Homo sapiens: one gene and its partners. The protein of the gene in region 1 purifies or fractionates together with the protein of each later gene. This does not show direct contact. Each region holds a gene or a part of one and is shown in the gene's direction. Other genes may lie near its edges. The genes, in order: SLC47A1, ATP8A1, FREM2, XPO4, CNNM1, GNPTAB and ZFC3H1.

Region 1 (3,500 bases):
TCATTTTTCTCTTCGGAAGCTTTTAGGACATTTTCTTATTATTATTCCTTTTTTTTTTTTTTTGAGATAGGGTCTTGTTCTGTCACCCAGGCTGGAGTGCAGTGGTGCAATTATAGCTCACTGCAGTCTCAAACTCCTAGGCTCAAACAGTCCTCCCGTTTTAGCCTCCTGAGTAGCTGGGATTACAGGTGCGTGCCACTATGCTCAGCTAACTCTTTAATATTTTTGTAGAGACCAGGTCTTGCTTTGCAGCCCAGGTTGGTCTTGAACTTCTGGATTCAAGCAATCCTCCTGCTTTAGCCTCTCAAAGTGTTGGGATTACAGGTGTGAACCACCACGCCTGGCCTATTACTCTTACTGTTCTGAAGTGTCTTGAGACTAAGTCTAGGTGTGAATCATTATCTGCTTGAAACTGTTGGGGTGAAGGAGAAGCTATCCCCTTGCCCTCCGATGGTTCACTGAAAAATCAACTTATAATAAGGCCGATGAATAAGAGAAAAGGCATACAAATGTATTTAACCATGCAAAAGGGAAGAATCACAGTCATTACCCAACATCCCAGTGAGGCCCAACACTCATATAACCAACTTTCAGAGGGGAGAGAGGAGATAGGGCATTTGGTGCTTCTGTTGAGGGATAGTAAATGAGTACTAGGGAAAATGATTGAATATTTTGCAGAATGAATGGATTGGGGGCAGGGTGGACAGACTGGTTCCCTTTGGAAGTTGAATGAACCTGAGAGACTGGCATTATTTTGTAAAAGGTTTGGCAATTGTTCTTCTTGGTGGGTTTGTCTGGCTTTTATGTAGATGGGGAAAAGTCTCTTTCAAGGCCTGTTGATCTCCAAAGAGTTTTTAATTTAAAATACTCATTATACCAGGGAGCCATATCTTGGGGTGAAATTCTCTGCAATCCTTCAATACTTAGTAGGCCCTTTGATGTGAACGGTCACATCTTTCTCCCATTCTGTGAATAGCCTTGTATTCTTTCTTCCTTCCTTTTTTTTTTTTTTTTTTGACACTGGGTCTCTCTCTGTCACTCAGGCTGGACTGCAGTAGCACAATCATAGCTAACTGCACCTCGATATCCTGGGCTCAAGTGATCCTCCCACCTCAGTCTCCCAAGTAGTTGGGACTATAGGCATACGCCATCAGGCCCAGCAAAGTTTTTGTTTGTAGAGATGAGGTATCACTATGTTGCCCAGGCTGGTCTTGAACTCCTGGGCTCAAGGGATTCTCCCACCTCAGCATCCCAAAGTGTTGGAATTACGGGCGTGAGCCATCGCACCCAGACTTGAATTATTTCTTAGGTTGTTTCTCCTTGTGTTTTGTTCTGAAATGCTTATTAGATGGGTGTTGGCTCCTTGAAAATTTCCCCTGTGAATCCTTTTTTTTTTTTCCCTTGGAGTGGAGTTTTGCTCTTGTTGCCCAGGCTAGAGTGCAATGGCACCATCTTGGCTCACCCAAACCTCTGCCTCCTGGGTTCAAGCGATTCTCCTGCCTCACTGCCTCAGCCTCCTGAGTAGCTGGGATTACAAGCATGTGCCACCATGTCCGGCTAATTTTGTATTTTTAGTAGAGACGGGGTTTCTCCATATTGGTCAGGCTGGTCTCTAACTCCCAACCTCAGGTGATCTGCCTGCCTCAGCCTCCCAAAGTGCTGGGATTACAGGCATGAGCCACCGCGCCCGGCTTCCCTGTGAATTTTAATGGAGAGGGCTACCTTATTTCTCTAGCTCCTGGGAGAGTGCTCCCTGGAGCACCCAAGCCAGCGCTGGTAGGATCATCGGTGTTCGTGAAGGAGTGAGTGGAGGGGCACTCTGCGATAAGATTTCTTTTATTTATTCACTGTAGCAATAGTGTCCTGAATTAACTTTCTCTCCACTATTAGCACATATTCCTTTTATACATAGCCCTTTATAAAAATGAAAAAAAAAATCCCTTTTAAGCTGCTAAGTTCCTTTTTCCTCCCAGGGTGCCCTGAAAACCTTGAAGGAATTTTAACGAACGATGTTGGAAAGACAGGCGAGCCTCAGTCAGATCAGCAGATGCGCCAAGAAGAACCTTTGCCGGAACATCCACAGGACGGCGCTAAATTGTCCAGGAAACAGCTGGTGCTGCGGCGAGGGCTTCTGCTCCTGGGGGTCTTCTTAATCTTGCTGGTGGGGATTTTAGTGAGATTCTATGTCAGAATTCAGTGACGTGGTAGGAAAGAAAGTCAGGTCAAGTGATGCTTTTGAGCTTACACACAATTCACAGGCCCACCAGTGACAATTTACTGTGAGTTAATGTCATTCAGGTGTGCCCATGGATTTTGAGGGCTGGAAATGCAAAGACACATTTTTCTATAAAAAGAAAAAGCAACTAAGGTTAAAAGCTATATTGTGGCCCAAGACACTGTCTGAAAGATGACATGAGTAGTAATTCACCACTATCTGAACCAAGCAAGGATCAATGTGCTGACTGCATTGGCCAATGGCTTTGATACTTCTGCTATTTTTTTAGACACAAACCCATAAACTAACTGCTTAAGAATTCATACTGCTTGAATTATGTAAAATATATTTTACAGTATATCTTTCCTTGGGCCTTAGATTACTATTCACTGGGCAAATGGTATTTGTTTTTGTTTTAATTTTTTTTTTAATAGACGGAAGTCTTGCTCTGTCATGCAGGCTGGAGTGCGGTGGTGCGATCATAGCTCACTGCAGCCTCGAACTCTTGGGCTTCAAGCAATCCTCCTGTGTCAGCCACCAGAGTAGCTGAGACTACAGGGGTATGCCACCATGCCCAGCTGGCATTTGTTAATCTTCATTTGAGGTCTAGATCTAGGCACTGTGGACACTGAAAAACAGTTGGGAAATCTTTCGAGCTGTGGAAATCCAAACAAAGACTGATAATTCCTGGTAGGGGTGTGTGCGTGACGTACTGCAGCCTCAACCTCCTGGGCTCAAGTGATCCTCCCACCTCAGCCTCCTGAGTAGCTGAGACCACAGGCGTGTGCCACCACGCCTAGCTAATTTTTTATACCAGGGTCTACCCTTTGTTTCCCAGGCTGGTCTTGAATTCCTGGGATCAAGCAATCCTTCCACCTTGCCCTCCCAAAGTGTTGGGATTATAGGCATGAGCCACCACGACTGGCCAGAGGACAAAATTTTAATAAAGGTCTTAGCTTAAGCAGTAATCCTACTTCATTAAGCCTTCCTGGGGTGCGGTACACACCGTTAATTCAGCAACCCTCAGTACATACTAAGTATGCTCAGTGCTGTGAAAGTGGATTACACCAAATTAAGTCATTCTTATCACACCCAATCAAAAGTCAAGAAGCCAGGGATAAAAGCACCTCAGGCACATAACATTAATCTAGTAATGTAATTCTCTGCACATCCAGCTGGTGAAACTGCGTGCTGTAAGCTGGGACCAGCTTTGTCCATAACTGCTGAGAGAACTTGCTGAAGCTCTAGGAATAATTTTGCCTGCCCGGTTGCTCACCAGTTGTAG
Region 2 (3,500 bases), on another chromosome or scaffold:
TCATTCTGACATTTAATTTTCTGTTCTATGGATTTTTTGGTTAGCACAGGTCTACATAACCATTTGAATCATCAAATACAACTGAGGCAACTTGCCTCTGTTATTCTTTATAGCCAGGACTACTTAAATTGTTGCTGCGTTCAGTAAAACAATTGCTAAATGCCACCAGAAATTTGAAAGCCGGAGATCCTTTAAATGTTGCCTTCCTATGTTCAAATTTCCAGGTGCCTGTTTGCGGGAGCATGGGCTGCCTTGTCTGCCTGTCTTCCTGAACGGAAACACTAAATGTTTCTAGACTACCCTGTTTGCTTACATAGCCAAGTAATGCATTATTCATCTTACCTGCCACAATGCAAAAGCTATTTTTGCAAAGGGAATGTAATTTCGTTCTCTTCTTTCTTATAGTTTACTTCCTAGAAAAAGGCCTGGGTGGTGTAGTGGCCTTGAAAAAAAGGTGGTTAACCATTGGCACCTTATTACATTTGTCATGGGTTTCACATAATTTTCACGTATCCACCCACATCTAGATACTGAGTTGTGACTTTGTCATCCTCAACAGAATACTAAGTATAGATTGCTAAATCATTGGTGTACATTTTTTATTACTCATCTTGTTTCTTTTTACAGAATTCAACAAGTCCACCACTTAAGCTCTCAAATGTGGAACGGATTACAAATGTACAAATTTTGATTTTATTTTGTATCTTAATTGCCATGTCTCTTGTCTGTTCTGTGGGCTCAGCCATTTGGAATCGAAGGCATTCTGGAAAAGACTGGTATCTCAATCTAAACTGTAAGCAATAAAGTGCTTACTGCACTTTTTTAGATTAAGACATGTATTTGTTTCACAATTGATCTTGATTTACTTTATTTCGTATTGTTTCTAAAAAGACCTTGTTGCCAAGATAGCTGGACATTTGATCTTTATTTTTCAGTGAGATTTCTAGCAAGTGTAAGTAAAATTTGGGAATCCTAAAATTTCAGAATCCTTAAAAACATAATGAGCACTCTATAGTGGTATAAAATGTTCACTAAGTATAGTCATTTATTATATATATCAACGAAAACTATTCCTTAAAAATATTTTTAACATAGGTGGTTAACTATATGGTAAAGAAAGTAGATTGACCATGTGTGGATATAACAAAACATATATATTTAAATATATATTGTATGTATTTATAAATATATAAAATATTTTAAATATATTTAAATAATATAAATATTTAAATATATTTTATCTTAAATAAAATATACTTTGTTTATATTTTATTTAAATAAAAGTACCAAAAAGTGGTTTATATGGTTTAAAAATGTTTAAACCCAATGTATTTTCATTTGAACTCAGTAATGTGGTAAGTCCTATATTAAATGTTATCTTAGAGAAGGTGCTAGTAAATAGTTTTCCTTTAGAGCATTTATCCTTTTATTATTGTGATATTAATGTACCACCCCTGGATATTTCTGTCAAATGAGTTTACATTTTCATTTCATGAGTACTTAGCCAATAAAGACTTAACTTCCAAAAGTGTGAAAGCAAATTCTAGTACAATCACATAGCAAAAACTGGTATTTTTAAATTTTTTTTATTATATTGATTTATCTTTGCAGCAATTCCAAGTTGTTTTTATAGTTACTGATTTATTATTTCAGTATCAGAACTGTTACTACCATCAGTCTGTTTCTTTGTATACTTTATAATTGTATCTGGTATAGCAGTTTTATTTTCATTTTGAGGAAGAAGAGTATAATGTACCTAGGAGAATAATTTACCTAGGACTGAATATTACTCATATAGTTTGGATTGTTTTTGCTGCTGCTGTCTTGTTTGCTTTTAAAGTATGCTTTAAATTGGAAATACTCTTAAGAATTTATATAAAAGTGATTCTACCCAATTGAGATTTTATATTTATAAACCCTCAGTGCTATCCCTGATGTCTCTAAACTTTGTGTTTGGAAGAGGGTTTGCAATATTTGACAGTCCTTTCACTGTCTTAGTACTTTTATACAGCTCTTACCTGGATTAACAACATATTGAACACAATGCAATTCTATCTTGAAGGATGTACTTGAGAATTAGGATAGATTATCAGCAAAGTGTTCCTCCCAAATTATCAAATAAGCTGCGTAGTATGGAAAACTTGTATTATGCTAATTTGGGGTCAATGCAAATAAAATATAAAACTGTAAATGACGTTCTTCCTGCCTCTCCCAACAGATGGTGGCGCTAGTAATTTTGGACTGAATTTCTTGACCTTCATCATCCTTTTCAACAATCTCATTCCTATCAGCTTATTGGTTACATTAGAAGTTGTGAAATTTACCCAGGCATACTTCATAAATTGGGTAAATATGAATTATGATTGTTATCACCCTACAAAATAATTTTGTCCTTAGGATATTTTGATATCTCAGGAGAAAAAAGGTTTTAATTATATCTACCGTTTCTTGACCACAGTATCAGATTTTTGAACCTAATTTGTTGCAAAGTTCCTCATCTCAGAATCACACAAGTTTACAGGCCAGACATTGTAGGGAAAATGGGTCTCTAGTTCAGGAAACCTATGGTGGTCGTGGGAGATGGAGAACCATGAGTTTGGAGTTAAGTGTCTGAATTATGGTTCTAGTATTATAATTTACTAGGTGTATCAACTTTCTCAAGTCACTTATTTTGAAACTTATTTTCTTGAACACAATCATAGGGATAATATGCCTTACCTACATCTTACAGTGGTTTTATGGACTAAGGAATCTCTTGACATAGCAAAGAGCTTTGAAAATAATCAATCACTATACAAATAATACTGTAATTCTTACTGATATCAACCAGATTATCATGTTATATCATGTTATTTTCTACACTGTAAACAATTTTAGCTTCACTTGAATTTTTCTTCATAATTTTTCTCTTGAATATTGTTAAATATTAGAAAAATGTTGGACATCTACTTTCTAAATGTTTTTAAATGTCTTAGTTTTATTTTTATTAAAGTTAAAATTAATGAATTTATCTAAATTAAATCTGTGGGCCTAATCTGCCAGAAAATTTAATTTTTCTTTTATTTTGAGAAACTTTGTGTTATTTTTGATGTTTCTTTCTTTTTCAATCATTGTAAAGTCTTTCAATATGAACAATATTAGGGTTTCGAAAAATATGACATACTTTTGTAACTGCTCATTATCTTCTTGTAGCGAATTATCTACCTAAACTGTCAATCTCTTAATTCATTGGTAAGAAATCAGTGTGATTTAGAAATCTAAAATGAGCTGCAGGTGTAGCTCACTTCATGCAGGAGATATATGGCTGAAAAATTACGTAATAGGATATGTACAAATATAAGTAAGACTTATTGAAGTTTCTTATAGCAATAATAGGGTAACTCATTGTGAGAATCACATAAGTAAGCTAGATAATCACTTTGTTGTTTTGATTTTCAAAAATAATATCTTTCAAAGAATTATATAATTTTAGTATTGGATGAACCCAGCAGGCTTATGCT
Region 3 (3,500 bases), on another chromosome or scaffold:
ATGAAATGTAATATGTGCATACAATGGGCTGCAATTCATTAACAGGGGAATTAAGTATTGAAACGTGCTCAAACATGGATGCACCTTGAAAACATTATGCTAAATGAAAGAAATCTATCACAAAAAAACACATTTTGTATGATTCCATTTATATGAAATGTCCAGGATAGACAAATACATAAAGACCTAGTGGTTTCCAGGGACTGACGGGGAGGAGGGATTGGGGGTGACTGCTAATAAGTACAGGCTTCCTTTTGGAGGTGATGAAAATCTTCTAAAATTGATTGTGTTGGTTGCACAGCTCCTTAAATATACTAAGAACCATTGAACTGTTTACTTTAAATAGGTGAATTACATGGTATGTAAACTATCTTCATAAAACTGCTCTAAAGAGGATTTTGTAAGTATAGTATGCTCAAAATAATGCACTGTCTTAAGGATTTCTGGTACATATCCTTTGTTGCCAATGAAGGTAATTAGTAACAACTATTTAATCGATCCAAAATTAAGTGAGGGGAAAATAGTGTTATAAAATGCTGTCATTTCCTCTTCTCAATGATTACTCAAAATCTTCAGTTAAGCGAAAAGAGAAAATGGCTTGTACAAAATTAGGCCCACTTAGTTAACACTGAGTCATGTTGATTGATGTAATTTTGTTGTTTTAGGTCCTAAACCTAGTGCAGTCCTATGTGACCCTTCGAGTCCCTCTGTATGTTTCCTACGTGTTCCATTCCCCCGTGGGGGTAGGAGGCTGGCAGCATTTTGACTTGAAGTCAGAGCTTCGTCTAACTTTTGTGTACGACACCGCCATCTTGTGGAATGATGGAATTGGCAGCCCCCCAGAGGCTGAACTTCAAGGTGAGTTCAGAAGACTTGGAAAATTCTATAGTTTTGTAACCTATTTAAACTATTTAAGACGATTTTTTTTTGCCATTGCTAAAAGTAGTACTAGCAAATTTCAGTATATTTTCATTTTCTATCTATAATAAGATAATTTCACCTTTTTCATCAAAAAACTCTTTAAACCATATTAGGGCTTTAAATTTTGTGCAATATGTGATTATTAAATATGACTTTATATATTTCATGGATATTTTATCCTTGCGATCTATTTTAGGTGATTAATTATTTATGTGTTACATAACACAACATATATATTTTTCTGAATTCTAGAAAATGGATAGAGGAAGCTCCAACGAAAGCAAGAAATGACCAAGGGAAAAAGTTACACATTTTTATTTCTGAAAAAAAGAGGTGCATTTAAATTAAATACAAATTATGGCCTGAATTCTAGTCATGACTCTACAACTAACTAGCTGTGAGATCTCAAGCATATTGCTTAACCTTTCTGGGACTTAACTTTTTCTGAATGATAGACACAACTTCTAATATCTCTTTCTGATGTAAAATTCTATTACTCTGGGGTACTTTAGTTGAATGTCTGCGAACTCGGATTGTGAATGCCACTAGTTCGAGTTCGCGAGCATTTGCAAAACTTGGTTTCAATCTCCATGTTAGACTCATAGTTCAAAGTCCACAAGCATCAATCTAATCCATTAGTAGGACGAGTGCTTTTTCTTTTTCAGACATGTATTACTGTTCCGATTCCACAAACATCCATAGTGTCATGCCAGTACTGCATTTTACTAGCCAGCAGGAAAACAGAGTTAATAGTGCACCTCAAATGTAAATCTACTCTCTTAAGTGGATTAAAACCTATTTATGCTCTGTTCATTTTGTTGTTGTCTTTTTTTCTCCATGTTTCATTTTGAATAGTTTCTATTTTAGAGCTATGTGACAGGTAATATGATAACCCTGAGTTATGATTCCAAATTATTTCAAATGTTTTAAGTCCGTGTCTTGTTTTAGAAGATGTATATTTAAGTTAATCTTAATGAGGATTTTTCTGTGGTTCCCAACCTCCACATAGGATCTCTTGTTTCCATCTGATTTCTGGAGCCAAATTTTATCAAACTGCTAAATTTCTTGGGAAAGCTTCAGAGGTTTCTTTAAGTCTATAAAATTAGGAATAATTCTGGATAACTCAAACCTATTTCTATTTACATGTCCGAATCTCCATCATTTTGACAATTTTGTCATGCCTCTCAATTTACAGCTTCATTTTTATAAACTCAGATTTTAAAAAAACTTGGTCTATTGTAAGTAATCTGTGTATTTCATAGTGACTTCACTCATGTTACTTAATAATTCATTTTGGCTCCCTTTTCTGCTTAGAAAAGAAAATGAAGATACTTCTGCCTCTGTTATTCAGAATTCTTCTGATAATACCCTTTGCCCAGAATGTTTAAAGACAAGTCAAACCTGAATTAATTTTTGGAAGGAATCTGTACATAAGGGGTCTCTGGCTACATATATTTTCATTCTTGGTACTCTCCCCATTATAGGTTCTCTCTATCCAACCAGCATGCGCATCGGTGATGAGGGGCGCTTGGCCGTGCACTTCAAGACAGAGGCTCAGTTCCATGGCTTATTTGTGCTGTCACATCCCGGTAAGCCCCGTTATCTTTTAACAACCACTCCTCACACAAAAAGGAGGTAGATTTTCCATCTTCACACATTTCAGCGTGCTTCTCTGTTACCACTGAAGCCCTTAATCTCAAATGAATTGTACATGTGGGATTATCTCCATGAGAGCTTGATAATTGTTCAGCTTCACCTCATAATCCACAAAATTATCATTATGCAGACTTTCAGAGAAAATGCAAAATAATTAGAGTAAAATTAAAAGGAAACCCTATTGAGTTCATTTTAAGTAAAGTTTTCCTTAAAGAGCATAGGAATAATCATTTCTTTCTCTGCTTTGCTTCCATTGTACAAATCGAATTGCAGATGATTCATTCAGCAAGCACTTCTCTTTTCACAGCTTTTTGCTAGGTACTGTGAGAAACCCTTTTAATAGGGTCAGAGGAGGTACTTCACTTTCATATTTAAGTTTTGGACATGTTAATTATGTTTAATAAGTATTGGCTATGCAATTTTACTAACTGTGATTCGCTGTGCTTTGAATATCAACAAGGCAGCAGTCGATAAAATCCCACGTCTAACTTCATTTGTTTTTTGTTTTTTTTTAACAAGGACATTTCACTAGAAAGAGCTTATTTTTTATTTGACTCTCCATATTACCAGTTTAGTAACATGGAGAGTCAAATAAAAAATAAGCCATTTTTCTGCCAGCTTATATTAGATTGGGAAAGGGAAAATAGTTCACTCAACATCTTTATAGCTTTTCTTTTTCTGGACTTGAACTCTAACAAAAGAGAATAGGGCTGAATAATTAGGAAGAGAAAGAGGCTTCATTGTATTTTTATGGAACTGAGCTACAAGAAAGAAAGAACCCAAAAAAATCATTTTGCTTTATTGTATTTGACAGTTCTGGAAAATGAGGATTTTCTGGTCTATACAGTTTTCTTCTACATGCCTACCTTTCTAATAAACTGAATCTTTGTGTAGCCATGATTGCAGGCAATCTAACTAAAATC
Region 4 (3,500 bases), on another chromosome or scaffold:
TTTTTGCTTAATTTTTCATTAGGTAACTCATATAGTTGTTTTATGGAAATCAGCATAGAATTTTAGAACATAGAAGAATCTTAGATCTTTTGGTACAGAAGTCTTAGGGAGTCTAGGATGAATATCAAAAGGAAATTGTAACAAATTTTTTGGTGTAAATGTACATTTTTAGTAATAGGGTCTAGAGCTTTTATCACCGTCTCTGAGAGACTAGAAACTGAAAAATAAGAATCAAGTCTAAGCATTCTCCCTTCTATGCTACAGATGGGGAAACTGAGGTTCAAAGAGGTAGAAGTGACTTGCCCAAGGTAGGTCACAGAGCAAATTCATGATATAACTGATCCAGGCTGAGATCACCAGACTCCCCTTTCAAAACCTTTACTCTTTTTTTTTTTTTTTTACTTTTTTTACTCAACCATGTTGGTTCTTAGTCAACATATACTATAAATGTTACATTTTATTACTTGATGGAAAATGTCTAAATATGGTACATCTATATTCAATCAATTTAGATTATTGGATAAGCTGCCAGATAAAGTAGTACAGTTGTCCCTCGGTGTCCATGAGAGGTTAGTTCCAGGAACCGCCTCCACCCATGGACATCAACCGTGCATTGATACTTAAGTCCCCCCGATCCCCTCCCTTTCTTTTGAGACAGGGTCTCTGTTGTCCCAGCTGGAGTGTAGTGGCATGATCATGGCTCACTGCAGCCTTGAATGGGTAATTTTTTAAAAATATTTTTTTGTAGAGAGGATCTCACTGTGTTGCCCAGGCTGGTCTTGAGCTCAAGTGATACTCTTGCCTTGGCCTCCTAAAGTGCTGGAATTATAGGCGTAAGCTACTGTGCCCAGGTGAGTTTCTTACATGATATGGTATGGTAATTGTGTATGACCTATGCACATCCTCTTGTATACTAAAATGTAGGAGGTGTTTTGATTTTAGAGACAACATTATTGAAAAGTTTAGTGTTCTTATAGTATTGATGCCACATTCATTTGCAGTCCAAAGAGCGCTTTATTTATTGTCTTGAATTTGCTTGGTTTTGTTGCCCTGTCTTCATTAGGTTGTTTTGGATTGTCCTTAGTGATTGTGTGTAGCAATAATATAAGATAGTGCAGAGCACACATATTAACTGATACATTATAGAAAAGTAATTTTCATAGGTTTTTTTTTTCCTTTTTCTTTTGAGACAGTCTTACTCTTGCCCAGGCTGGAGTGCAATGGCACAATCTCAGCTCACTGTAACCTCTGCCTCCCAGGTTCAAGTGATTGTCCTGCCTCAGCCTCCCAAGTAGTTGAGACTGCAGGTACCTGGCACCACGCCTGGGTAATTTTTGTATTTTTAGTAGAGATGAGGTTTCAACACGTTGGCCAGGCTAGTCTTGAACTCCTGACCTCAGGTTATCCTCCCACCTTGGTCTCCCAAAGTGCTGGGATTAACAGGCGTGAGCCACCGCACCCGGCCCATACATTTGTTTTTAAACCAGGATGGATTTAGTGAGTGTAAATCCAACTTTAATAAACGAGATTCATGACTGGTTTTCATAGATTTTATTATAGTGGAATCTGGTTAATATCTTCTAAAATACTTGCACATCTGTAGTCCTATAGAAAAATTTTTGTCTTCATTCTCATATCAGTCCTGTGAAGTAAATAGGATGAGATATTCCTAAACCTTATAAATGAGAAAACCTGGCCAGGCATGGTGGCTCACACCTGTAATCCTAGCACTTTGGGAGGCCAAAGTAGGTGGATCACCTGAGGTCAGGAGTTCGAGACCAGCCTGGCCAACATGGCGAAACCATGACTCTACTAAAAATACAAAAATTATCTGGGCGAGGTGGTGCATACCTATAACGTAATCCCAGCTACTTGGGAGGCTGAGGCAGGAGAATCACTTGACCCCAGGAGGCAGAGGTTGCAGAGATTGTGCCATTGCACTCCAGCCTGGGCTGTAGAGCGGGACTCTGTCTCAAAAAAATAGAATAAATAAATAAATAAATATGAAAACCTGATATTCAGAGATGGCAAATGATTTGCCTGTTGTCATGTAGCTAGTTTGGATCTGGAATCCAATTTCTGGCCATTGATTTGTTTTAGAACATTTCTTCAGTATATAGAAACACAGCATGTTAGACACTATGCTGTGTATGCTGAGGAGACAGAAGAAGCACCTTCTTTTCAAGGAGTGGAGAAAGGCAAAAATATTAGCAAATGTTGGTTGGTAAAGTTATAATAGAAGTAGGTACAAACATCTATCTCAGGCTGAGATAGGGACTGAGAAAGGGCTTCTTGGAATAGGTAACCCTTAAGCTGAATCATGAAAAATAGATTAGAGTTTTCTAGTTTGATAAGCAATATCCCAGGTGGAGATATATATTTTGGGGAATATAGTCTGAGAGAATATAGTTTGGGGAAATACAGTGAGTTTGAGGAATATTTGAGCATTTATGTAGTAGATATTTCCTGAGACCTTCAATGTGTAAGGTACACTGCCTTTATTTTTTTGTAACCACAGTACACGTCATAAAAATGAAAATTTTAATTAATTGAACCTACTTTTCTTATTTGAAAGATGCATTATAGTAAGTATGCATTTTTGTTTATTTCAGCCCTGTCTTGTAGTACCTGCGGTGGCACTAGATATTAGAAAACTGGCACAGCATTCTTTTTCTCAAAAAAGCTAATTAATAGGAAATTTATGTTTCAAATTCAGTTCAATTAAATGTGTATTTGCAGTTGGACTTGTGTCACACTAATTGGAACATAGCCAGTGATCCAGAGAAGAAATGCAAAAAGGCATTTGAAATCATCCATAGATGCCTAAAAGGCAGTTGTTAAAATTTAACAGCATTTTATGATTAAAACAATTGGATAAACTAGGAATTGAAGGGAATTCTCAATATGATAACAAATAGTTATCTGAAACCATGTATTAAATGATGATATCCTCAGAAGTAAAACGGGAGTCCTAATATAACTGTTATTTAATACCTTCTGGAGGGTCTAACTGATACAGTAATACAAAAAATGGGAATAAGTGCAGATATTGGAAAGAAAGGCCAAAAAATGATTATTTGCAGGTGATATGACATTTCGGAAAAAAAGTTTAAGCAAAATAACTAAGACTGTTGGAACCATTAGTTCTTTGGAAAGATGACCAGATGTAAGAAAAATAAATGGGTTGCAAGATTTCCTTTATATCAGCAGTGATCAGCTTAAAATTGGAAAAAAGATCCCATTCTGTTAGAAAGAAAAACTGTAGAAATAAATTATAGGGCACTGATAAGAAACATGCACCATTTTTGTGAAGAACATGATACAGCTTATTTGCAGAATATAAAAGAGCTGAATTAAATGAAGGCTATGCTCCTTGGTCTGAAAGGTCAATCCGGTTAAGGTGGCAATTTCTCCCTCATTCATCTCTAAATTGAATATAATGTCAATCAAAATCTCTCTTTCCTCCTCACCCTTTTCTGAGGTGGGAGAAAAATTAATTG
Region 5 (3,500 bases), on another chromosome or scaffold:
GATATAGCTTCCTAATGGCTAGCAGTACTCTCATTTAACTGCATTTTGTATAAATTTTTTGTCAAAAATTTAATGTCATGATAATTTGAGCCCGAGGCTGCAGTGAGCTATGACTGTGCCACTGAACTCTAGCCTGGGTAACAGAGCAAGACCCTGTCTCAAAAAAGAAAGAAAGAGAGAGAGAGGAAGGGAAGGAGGGAGGGAGGGAGGGAAGGGAAAATTCAATCTCACTACTTTAACATCATAAATAATCTTTAGAACTTTGAATACAAACAAATCTGGGGTCTTTTTCCTGCCACAATTTTTGAAATCATATTAAATATTAAAATGTAGCCTGGAAGGGGGGAAAAAGGTCTAAAAGCTACTTTCAGTCTCAGATTTGAGAGAACAGCCCTAGACTTTGTGTTGGTATGATGAGAAGGGAGAGAAATGTATATATGGCAGCTATTTTAGTCCATTTTCGGTTGCTGTCTCACCCTGTTCAGTCCATCTCGCCTTAATCCTTGCATTCATAGTTCCCACTGCAACTTGAGGTTCATCTATCCACTCTTAGAATTATGCTTACATTTTGTATATCTTACAGAAGTAGGGTCTTAGATCTGGGCATTGGGTGGCATAAACCACAGAAATTTATTTCCTCAAAGATCTGGGGGCTAGCAGTCCAAGATCAAGGTGTCTGGCAGGTTTGGTTCCTTCTGAGGCGTCTCTCCTTGGCTTGCAGTCACCACCTTCTAACTGTGTCCTGACATGGTATTTCCTCTGTATGCATGCATCCCTGGTGTCTCCTTGTGTGTCCAAATTTTCTCTTCTAACAAGGACACCAGTCAGATTGGATTAGAGCCCACCCTAATGGCCTCATTTTAACTCAGTCACCTCTTAAAACTGATAGTTAAGATACAGAGCAGTTAAGATAGTGTCTCATTGTCATGTGCTGGCAGAAGATGTTTTAAATGAAACTCCTGTGAACTCATTCATTCATTTGTTTAGGTTTGTTTGTTTGTTTGTTTGAGACAGAGTTTCACTCTGTCGCCCAGGCTGGAATGCAGTGGCGCCATCTTGGCTCACTACAAACTCTGTCTCCTGGGTTCAAGTGATTCTTCTGCCTCAGCCTCCCAAGTAGCTGTGATTACAGGAGTGCACCAACACGCCTGGCTAATTTTTGTATTTTTAGTAGAGACAGGGTTTCACCATGTTGGCCAAGCTGGTCTCGAACTCCCGACCTCAGGTGATCCACCTGCCTTGGCCTCCCAAAGTGCTGAGATTACAGGCATGAGCCACTGCACTTGGCCTCATTTAGTATTTTTTAAACATCTATACAGTTTTAGGCAACAAGGGAGACAGGAAGACTGTCCTCAGGAGGTTAGCAATATACAGGGCATAATGAGCAGTCTTTCGAAGCAGGAATTGTCATATCAACTCTTATATCCCCAGCACCTTACACACTGCCTTGTAAATAGTAAGCTGTTCCAAAAAGTTGATATTGATCTGAAATGAATCCCTGTGCAGAATTTCTAAACCTGGTCGAAAAAAGCTCCTTTAGTGTTCTATTAATAGCTACTTTGTATTTAGGTAGAGCACTAAAGAGAAGCAAGCCATTACAGAGAATACTATACCAAGGAAGATATTTCCACTTCCTTTCATAGCCTTGCTACTTCCTCAAAGTAAGGTCCGTGAAACAGCAGCATGAGTCTCACCTGGGAACTTATTAGAAATGCAGAATTTTATGCCTCACCCTAAATCCACTGAATGAAAATCTGCATTTTAGCAAGCTGCCAGGTGGCTCCTATGTAACATTAAAGTTTGAGAAGCATTGCCTTCAGAGACCCCTTATTAACAGTGTTTGGTAGATCTACTTAAGATAGAATATAAGACATAATGAACAAGGTGGATGTTCTCAGGCTGCAAGCCATATAACATAGTGGTCATTTTCTTTAGGAGTTATACATTTGCACCATAGGTTAGGAGGTGAAAGCTGGGTTGAACTGCTTTCCTTTACCTTTAAAAATAACGTTTTTGGCTGGGCGCAGTGGCTCACGCCTGTAATCCCAGCATTTTGGGAGGGCGAGGTGGGTGGATCACCTGAGGTCAGGAGTTCGTGACCAGCTTGGCCAACATGGTGAAACCCCATCTCTACTAAAAATACAAAAATTAGCCAGGTGTGGTGGCACACACCTGTAATCCCAGCTAATTGGGAGGCTGAGACAGGAGAATTGCTGAGACAGGAGGCGGAGGTTGCAGTGAGCTGAGATCGCACCACTGTACTCCAGCCTGGGTGACAGAGAAAGACTCTGTCTCAAAATAAATAAATAAATAAGAAAAAAATAATTTTTAAAGCTGGTCTTTAATAGCTCTTCCATTTTCCTTACTTCCTTGCTTCTCAAGTAACGTAACCACCAACAAATCCCTTCGAAGGTAGAAGAGGAAAATGACGATATTAATAGGAGCCACAGTTACCATTAATTGAGCACCAACAGTTCTTCCAGGCACCATGCCAGGCCCTTTACATACTCAGAACAACCCTCCTGGGTAGATGTCATTAACTACATTTTACAGATGAAGAAACTAAAGCTCGGATCAATAACATGACTTGTACAACTTTCCATAACTAATAACTGACTGAACTGTGATGTGAACTACATCTGTAGGACCCGAAAGCCTGTTCTTTCCCTGCTACACCTGTCTTATTCCTTCCTCCATCCTGGAATTCCTGCCACCCACAGGGTTCAAAGGTAGCCTTTTCACCTCTGATTGCTGCCCATGGCTGATTCACCTCCAGTTTCTGCAGGTTAGTAATGTAGCTTTATAATTACAGTAATTGCTAACATGCATATTGCACTTGATAAAACATTTCTATATACCTTCTCTTGTCCAATCTTAAACAACTCTGCAGTTACAGGTGATGATATGGGATTTTATCTTTTTACTTCTTATGAGTTGCAAGTCTTTAGAAGTGGGGAAGAGGAAAATGGTCTTTCACACTAGAGTGTGAGGTTTACAAAAGGGAACAATATTTCTCACCACTGGACTGTAAGTTCCTTGAGGACAGAGAATGAATCTTACTTATTTTGTATTCTCAGGACAAGTATAGTGACCGCCATGGCTAGGGGATGTATAACCATTTATTGAATAAATGGTTTTAAATACCTAACTTCTATATTTCTATGTTTGAGTGAGGTGAACCCTAAGTACGGAATAATTAATGTTGTTCCTTGATCCCAGCAAATCTCTCCTCTTCCTCTTCATGGGCCTCTGTCCCCAGTAAGTGGCACCACTTGTCCCTTTAGTCTCCCAGACTAGAAAGCTTTCCTTTGCATTCACCTCATCCTATTAATCATTGTCGTCTGCACAGGCTGTCATTAGAAAATAGCATAGACTGGTGACCTAAACAACAGAAATTTATTTTCTCGCAATTCAAGGCTTTGACATCCAAGATCAAGGTTTTGGCCAACTCAGTTTCTGGTGAGGACGTTCTTCCTGGCTTGCATGTGGGTGCCTTCTCT
Region 6 (3,500 bases), on another chromosome or scaffold:
TTAGTCCCATAACACTTCTTCCAGAGGCGGAAATCCTTTTTGAGGATATTCCCAAAGAAAAACGCTTCCCGAAGTTTAAGAGACATGATGTTAACTCAACAAGGAGAGCCCAGGAAGAGGTGAAAATTCCCCTGGTAAATATTTCACTCCTTCCAAAAGACGCCCAGTTGAGTCTCAATACCTTGGATTTGCAACTGGAACATGGAGACATCACTTTGAAAGGATACAATTTGTCCAAGTCAGCCTTGCTGAGATCATTTCTGATGAACTCACAGCATGCTAAAATAAAAAATCAAGCTATAATAACAGATGAAACAAATGACAGTTTGGTGGCTCCACAGGAAAAACAGGTTCATAAAAGCATCTTGCCAAACAGCTTAGGAGTGTCTGAAAGATTGCAGAGGTTGACTTTTCCTGCAGTGAGTGTAAAAGTGAATGGTCATGACCAGGGTCAGAATCCACCCCTGGACTTGGAGACCACAGCAAGATTTAGAGTGGAAACTCACACCCAAAAAACCATAGGCGGAAATGTGACAAAAGAAAAGCCCCCATCTCTGATTGTTCCACTGGAAAGCCAGATGACAAAAGAAAAGAAAATCACAGGGAAAGAAAAAGAGAACAGTAGAATGGAGGAAAATGCTGAAAATCACATAGGCGTTACTGAAGTGTTACTTGGAAGAAAGCTGCAGCATTACACAGATAGTTACTTGGGCTTTTTGCCATGGGAGAAAAAAAAGTATTTCCAAGATCTTCTCGACGTAAGTAACATCCAGCCTCATTCTTTCTCATGCTCAGGAAGAGTAAATAATCTCATGATAATATCATTATAGCTACCATTTATTCAGCACTTCCCTGTGCCGGCCATGGAACTAAATGCTTTTCTTACATGGTTTCATTTAATTTACCCAATAACCCTAATAATAAAAAATGTCATATGAAGGTATTTATTATTGCTGTCCCCATTTTGTAGTTTAGGAAACAGCCCAAGTGTGAATGAGTAAGGGATTTAGCCAGGGGCGTACTTGGAGGAAGGAGAGTGGGAAGTGGCATGTTGTCTTGTCTTGACATTTCAGATATGGTATTTTTCCAGCTTTACTGATGAAAAACCCTGAAGTTCAATTAAGTTCATTCGCTTCCCCAACATTATAACAGCAAATCAGTGTGAGCCAAGCCTCAAAGTTGGACTGCTCGTTGCCCTGTACCATGGCTTCACTGTGCTGTGGTGTCATCTGTACCTCTCCTCAGTGCTCTCACGGTGCTAACCACTGGGGAATGCAAGATGACGGGAACATAGCCACTGCTCATGTGGAAACTCAGGGACCAGTAGAGAAGACAAATTTGTGGGGAGAAAACTGTAGCAAAGAGATGTGTCTGTGTTGAGATATGGGCAAGAAGTTCAGAGGGAGGACTCCTTAGCTCTGCCTAGAAGTACTAGGGAAGGCATACAGAAGGAAGTGCCCTGTGGACTGACCTTCGAAGGGGTGGGAGTTGACAGACCAAAAAAAAAAATCATACAGTCTGGGCTGAATAGTGAAGGCACACAGCCACGAGTGGGTGTTAGGCTGGGAGAAAAGAGAGTGAAGGAGGAACTATGTCCTCAGCATTTTAGGAAGTATCTTGTGCCTTGCACATGAGGCATTTACAGATTGTCTAGTGAAGGACTGCAGTGTTCTTGACTATGTTTATTTCCTCAGTTTCCCCCATTTTCTTTCCTTTCCTTTCTTTTTTTTTTTTTTTTGAGATGGAGTTTCGCTCTTTTTCCCAAGCTGGAGTGCAATGGCGTGATCTCGGCTCACTGCAGTCTTTGCCTCCCAGGTTCAAGAGATTCTCCTGTCTCAGCCTCCTGAGTGGCTGGGATTACAGGCATGTGCCAGCATGCCTGGCCAATTTTTTGTATTTTTAGTGGAGACGGGGTTTCACCATGTTAGCCAGGCTGGTCTCGAACTCCTGACTTAAGGTGATCCGCCCGCCTCGGCCTCCCAAAGTGCTGGGATTACAGGCGTGAGCCACTGTGCCTGGCCTCTGGCCTCTTTCCTTTTTTTTTTTTTTTTTTTTTAAATTTACAAAAGCATTATAGGCTAGTAGTAAAAATTGCAAACAATTCAAAAATATACAGTAAATAAAGGAAAGTTCTTCCTTCTTCAGTCTCCTTCCCGGAGATAATTGCTGTTAATAGTTTGATGGGTATTCTTCCAGTATTTTTCTATAGCTATGCAAACATACCTATATGTATGTATAGTTATATATAGAGAAATATATGTATAGTGTAAATTTACATATATTTCCCTGCAGTTGCCTTTTGATGTAGTAGGATGTGGGCAAATGCCATTATTTATTTATTTATTTATACCCATGCCAGTGCCATTATTCTTTTTAATGGCTGCAGGTTAGTTATTTCCAATGTTTTGTGATTACAAATAGTGTTGCAGTGAATTCTCTTGTACATATATCTTACATTTCAGTGAGTTTTAGTTCTGCAGGTAGAATTACTAGCTTAGCAGGTATAAACTTTAAATATGTCTTTCTGAAATGTTGCACCACTTCATATTTCCACAAACAGTATACAACAGTGCTTGTTTCACTGCAGTCTAACCAACACCAGTTAATATCAGTCTCCTTACATTTTTATTTTTATCAGTTTGAGAAGCAAAAATATTTCTGTAAAGTGTTTGAATGCTTTGCCAATTTTCTTTGCCTATTTAGTTCTGCCACTGACTGGTTTTGATTTTATAATATTAAAACTATTATAAGATGAAACCAAATTTGTTTCTAGTCCTTGCGCTTAAAACTCAAGGACTTGCACATTTGATATCACCTGCAGAAATAGCTTGATATTGAAAGTACTATCAAATGTATATGTACATAAATTTTCTAAATGTTGCATTGAATTAGCTTTGACATCTCACAGTCAGTGACCAGTCCTTGAAGAATACCCTCCATATGTGACTGTTGTTATGTAGATCTCCATCGTACAGCTGTTGTTCTCAAACCAACATTGGTGATACTTGCACTGAAATCCAGTTGAGTCCTGCTAAGTCCAGTTTAGATCCTTAAAGTGACCCGTTAACATGTATTTCATTTGCTCCTAATGAAGAGTTCGTGACTAGTTATTACCACATTATATAAAATGTCTTGTAACAAAGTACACTTGTGCACTAAACATAATGCTGAGTTACATGTAGAATTCTCTTTTCAGGAAGAAGAGTCATTGAAGACACAATTGGCATACTTCACTGATAGCAAAAATACTGGGAGGCAACTAAAAGATACATTTGCAGATTCCCTCAGATATGTAAATAAAATTCTAAATAGCAAGTTTGGATTCACATCGCGGAAAGTCCCTGCTCACATGCCTCACATGATTGACCGGATTGTTATGCAAGAACTGCAAGATATGTAAGTCTTGCTCGTGTTTGAGTTGTTTGCTTGTGTTCAGAACTAAGGCTACTTGAAATGTGCATATTTACCATGCTAAATTTATAGCTCTAATATTTGATGAC
Region 7 (3,500 bases), on another chromosome or scaffold:
AACTGTGGAAAATTTTTGGAAACTGGTTTCCTTAATATGCTGTTCAGCCAAAAGTTTTGGAAGGTCTCCATCAAGAAAACAAAATTATTCATCAAAAAATGAAAACTGTGTGGAAGAAACTTTTGAAGATTTGCTTTTAAAGTATAAACAAATACAGTTGGAACTAGAATGCATCAATAAGGATGAAAAACTAGCATTGAGTAGCAAAGAAGAGAATGTGCAGGAAGATCCTAAAACATTGAACTTCGAGGACCAAACTAGCACTGATAATGTCAGTATTACAAAGGATTCAAGTAAAGAAGTAGCTCCTGAGGAGAAAACACAAGTCAAAACTTTTCAGGCATTTGAATTAAAACCACTCAGGCAAAAATTGACTTTACCAGGAGATAAGAACCGTTTGAAAAAAGTTAAAGATGGAGCAAAACCACTTTCCCTGAAATCCGACACTACTGATTCTAGTCAAGGTAATGGAATTAAATATTTCAGTTAGTAATGACTCTTCTTCCTCTAAAGTAGTAACTACTTGTTTTGGCAGTGTACTTCATTGAAATGATTGTAATTATCTGTAAATTCTTTTGTACTTTCTATGTAGACATTCATATCATTGAATAATTACTAATTTTGTTTACTTTTAGTCTTTATTTATTTATTTATTTTTTGCCTGACATTCTGGCCTCTATAATAGAATGTTATACATAAGTGATAATAGTGGACACCTTTGTTTCCTAATTTAAAGAAAATGGTTTTGACATTTACCATTAAATATGATGTTAATTTTTTTGTAGGTATCCCTTATCGGGTAAAGGAGGGTTTTACTCCTATTCCTGGTTTGAAATTTTCAGCGTGAATGGATGTTGAAGTTTACAAAATCTGTTTTCTTCATTATTGGGATGAGCATCTAATTTATTTTAATTTGTTAGTGTAATGAATTATATAATTTATTTCTAGTATTAAACCACCCTTGTATGCTTGCGTTTAATACAGTTTATGATATACCATTTTTAAATCATGGATTTGGCTTGTTTTTTCTTTTCCTCTTTATTAAGATATAATTTATATACAGTAAAATTTATCTTTTAACATTATAAATGAATAAGTGTGTAGTTCTTCAGGTTTTGACAAATGTAGACAGTGGGTAACCATCACCAGCTACCATTAAGATACAGAATTCTTTCATCAACCTCAAACAGTTTCTCCAAGTGTCTTTGTAGTTATCCCGTCCCTCAGCCCTTAGTTCACCTGGTAACCACTGATCTGTCCCTATAGTTTTGCCTTTTCCAGAATGTCACACTAATGGAATCATACAGTATATTGCCTTTCATTATAGCTTCTTTCATTGAGCATAATGTGTTTGAAATTCATTCATGTAATTGTATATGTCAGTAGTTCTGTGTATCCCATCATACTGTAGTTCATCCATTTCCCAATTATGTTTGGGTTTTTCCAACTTTCGGCTATTACAAATGAAGGTTTGCTAGTGTTTTGTTTAGAATTTTTTATGTGTTCAGAGCCTGTAATTTCCCCCCCCTCTTTTTCCTTGACAGTTTTTAGTGTAAGGTTATAATACTCAAATTAGTTGGGGCTGTTTTCATCTTTATTCTCTGTAATAGTTTAAGATTGGAAACATTCTGAGATACTTGGTAGATCTTGCTGATAAAAGTGTCTGGGCCTGGGTGGAGTTTTTTTCTGAGAAAGTTTTAATCTAACTTCGTGTTTTCTATTTCTGTTAAGACAGTTTATGTAAACTCTATATTTTTTGTAATGTGTCTATTTCCTGTAAGTTACAGAAGTTATAAAAATTGTTCTTAAGAATCCTTTACTTTTTTATCTGTAGTATTTATAAGTTGTACCTTTTTTTTCCCTGCTCTCTTCTTTAATTTACCCTGAAATAAGTACATAAGTTTTTAAACTCAGTTTTCAGCCTCTCTCCTATTAAGATCATTTTAGGCCATAAAGTTTGACTTTAGTTCTGTCTCAAGTTGGGTTATTTAACTTTTTTCATTCATTCTGAATATTTTCTAATTTTTATTTTTCATTGACTTGTAGGCTGCTTGGAAGTATGTTTCTTCTAAACATGTAGGTTGTCTAGCAGTATTTTTTATTGATATCTAAGTCAATCATACTGTCAGAAAATAAGATTGCTATGATAACCAATCTTTTGAAATACTTGGAGACTTCCTTTATTGTCCAGTATGTAATCAGTTTTTTGTAAGAGTTCTGTGTATGTTTGAAATGAATTTATAGATTACTTGAGCTTTTTGTGTTGTTCACTTTTTTTATTTTTTGATATGCTTGATCAGTTACTAAGAGGAGTTTGTTAAAATTTGCCAGTATGATGATGGATTTGTGATTTTTACTTTTTGCTTTAAATACTTTGAAGGTGGGTAATTGAGTCATTATGTAGTGACTTTATCTCTGATGTTTTTGCCTAAAAGACTATTTTGTCTTATATTAATAGCCACATCATCTTTCTCTTTATATAATTTCCCACTCTTTCAGTCTTTCTGTATCCTCATGTCTCGGATATTACTTGTACATAGTATAGAGCTGGTTTTAATTTATAATTCAGTATGACAATCTTTGTCCTTTAGCTTGAACGTATAGTCTACTCACATTTTTTATGATTATTGACATTTGGTTTTATTTCTTCTTCTTTTTTTTCTTTTTAGGCTCTTATTTTTCTTCACACAATTTTTTTTCATTTGCTAGTTTGGAAGTTGGATACTAAATTTCTGGTCTTATATTCCTACCAGTGTTTAAAGTTAATCAGGAACCTTACTCTTTCCCCGAAATACAAAGAATGATATTTGCTTAGCTTTGCCTATATATTTAGCACTTTCTTGGCTCACTCTTTGTATCATGTCTGGAATTATATATGTATAAATATATTCTCTGTGTGTGTGTGTTTTAGATAAGATCTCACTGTGTTGCCCAGGCTAGAGTGCAGGAGTATGATCATGACTCAGTGCAGCCTTGACCTCCTGGGCTCAGGTGATCCTCCCACCTCAGCCTTCTGAGTTGCTGGGACCACAGGCATGTACTACCATGCCCGGCTATGTTTTAAAAATTTCTGTAGAGACGGGGTCTCAGTATGTTGTCTAGGCTGGTCTCAAACTCCTGGGCTCAAATGATCCTCTTGCCTTAGCCTCCTAAAATGCTGGGATTACAGGTGTGAGCCACCATGCTCTGTGCTTAAATACATTCTTTAGACTTTTTTTTTAAAAATGTGTTTTTGCTGGGTGGAAAACGATTTCCGTTTACTCTTTTTAAAAGATATTTTCCCTGGGTTTAGAATTCTAGGTTGTTTAATTATATGCTTTTTGTTTGTTTGTTTTTGAGACAAAGTCTTTCCCTGTCATCCAGGCTGGAGTGCAGTGGCACTATCTTGGCTCATTGCAACCTCCGCCTCCTGGGTTCAAGTGATTCTCATGCCTCAGCTTCCTGAGTAGCTGGGACTATGGTACATGCCATTGCGCCCGGCTAATTTTTGTATTTAGTGG

The links.
Region 2: the proteins of SLC47A1 (region 1) and ATP8A1 purify together in Homo sapiens (affinity purification with mass spectrometry; one large-scale study listed by BioGRID and IntAct). This does not show direct contact.
Region 3: the proteins of SLC47A1 (region 1) and FREM2 purify together in Homo sapiens (affinity purification with mass spectrometry; one large-scale study listed by BioGRID and IntAct). This does not show direct contact.
Region 4: the proteins of SLC47A1 (region 1) and XPO4 purify together in Homo sapiens (affinity purification with mass spectrometry; one large-scale study listed by BioGRID and IntAct). This does not show direct contact.
Region 5: the proteins of SLC47A1 (region 1) and CNNM1 purify together in Homo sapiens (affinity purification with mass spectrometry; one large-scale study listed by BioGRID and IntAct). This does not show direct contact.
Region 6: the proteins of SLC47A1 (region 1) and GNPTAB purify together in Homo sapiens (affinity purification with mass spectrometry; one large-scale study listed by BioGRID and IntAct). This does not show direct contact.
Region 7: the proteins of SLC47A1 (region 1) and ZFC3H1 purify together in Homo sapiens (affinity purification with mass spectrometry; one large-scale study listed by BioGRID and IntAct). This does not show direct contact.

Annotation. Positions count from the first base shown.
Region 1 is NC_000017.11:19,575,354-19,578,853, forward strand, and holds part of SLC47A1 (multidrug and toxin extrusion protein 1), read left to right. Parts: intron 1-1,973; coding exon 1,974-2,200; 3' UTR 2,201-3,500.
Region 2 is NC_000004.12:42,577,106-42,580,605, reverse strand, and holds part of ATP8A1 (phospholipid-transporting ATPase IA), read left to right. Parts: intron 1-627; coding exon 628-793; intron 794-2,218; coding exon 2,219-2,346; intron 2,347-3,500. UniProt on the Homo sapiens protein: Catalytic component of a P4-ATPase flippase complex which catalyzes the hydrolysis of ATP coupled to the transport of aminophospholipids from the outer to the inner leaflet of various membranes and ensures the maintenance of asymmetric distribution of phospholipids.
Region 3 is NC_000013.11:38,872,077-38,875,576, forward strand, and holds part of FREM2 (FRAS1-related extracellular matrix protein 2 precursor), read left to right. Parts: intron 1-665; coding exon 666-858; intron 859-2,405; coding exon 2,406-2,510; intron 2,511-3,500. UniProt on the Homo sapiens protein: Extracellular matrix protein required for maintenance of the integrity of the skin epithelium and for maintenance of renal epithelia. Required for epidermal adhesion. Involved in the development of eyelids and the anterior segment of the eyeballs.
Region 4 is NC_000013.11:20,896,247-20,899,746, reverse strand, and holds part of XPO4 (exportin-4), read left to right. Parts: intron 1-3,500. UniProt on the Homo sapiens protein: Mediates the nuclear export of proteins (cargos), such as EIF5A, SMAD3 and isoform M2 of PKM (PKM2). In the nucleus binds cooperatively to its cargo and to the GTPase Ran in its active GTP-bound form.
Region 5 is NC_000010.11:99,332,356-99,335,855, forward strand, and holds part of CNNM1 (metal transporter CNNM1), read left to right. Parts: intron 1-3,500. UniProt on the Homo sapiens protein: Probable metal transporter.
Region 6 is NC_000012.12:101,761,460-101,764,959, reverse strand, and holds part of GNPTAB (N-acetylglucosamine-1-phosphotransferase subunits alpha/beta precursor), read left to right. Parts: coding exon 1-758; intron 759-3,196; coding exon 3,197-3,396; intron 3,397-3,500. UniProt on the Homo sapiens protein: Catalyzes the formation of mannose 6-phosphate (M6P) markers on high mannose type oligosaccharides in the Golgi apparatus.
Region 7 is NC_000012.12:71,653,849-71,657,348, reverse strand, and holds part of ZFC3H1 (zinc finger C3H1 domain-containing protein), read left to right. Parts: intron 1-47; coding exon 48-464; intron 465-3,500. UniProt on the Homo sapiens protein: Subunit of the trimeric poly(A) tail exosome targeting (PAXT) complex, a complex that directs a subset of long and polyadenylated poly(A) RNAs for exosomal degradation. The RNA exosome is fundamental for the degradation of RNA in eukaryotic nuclei.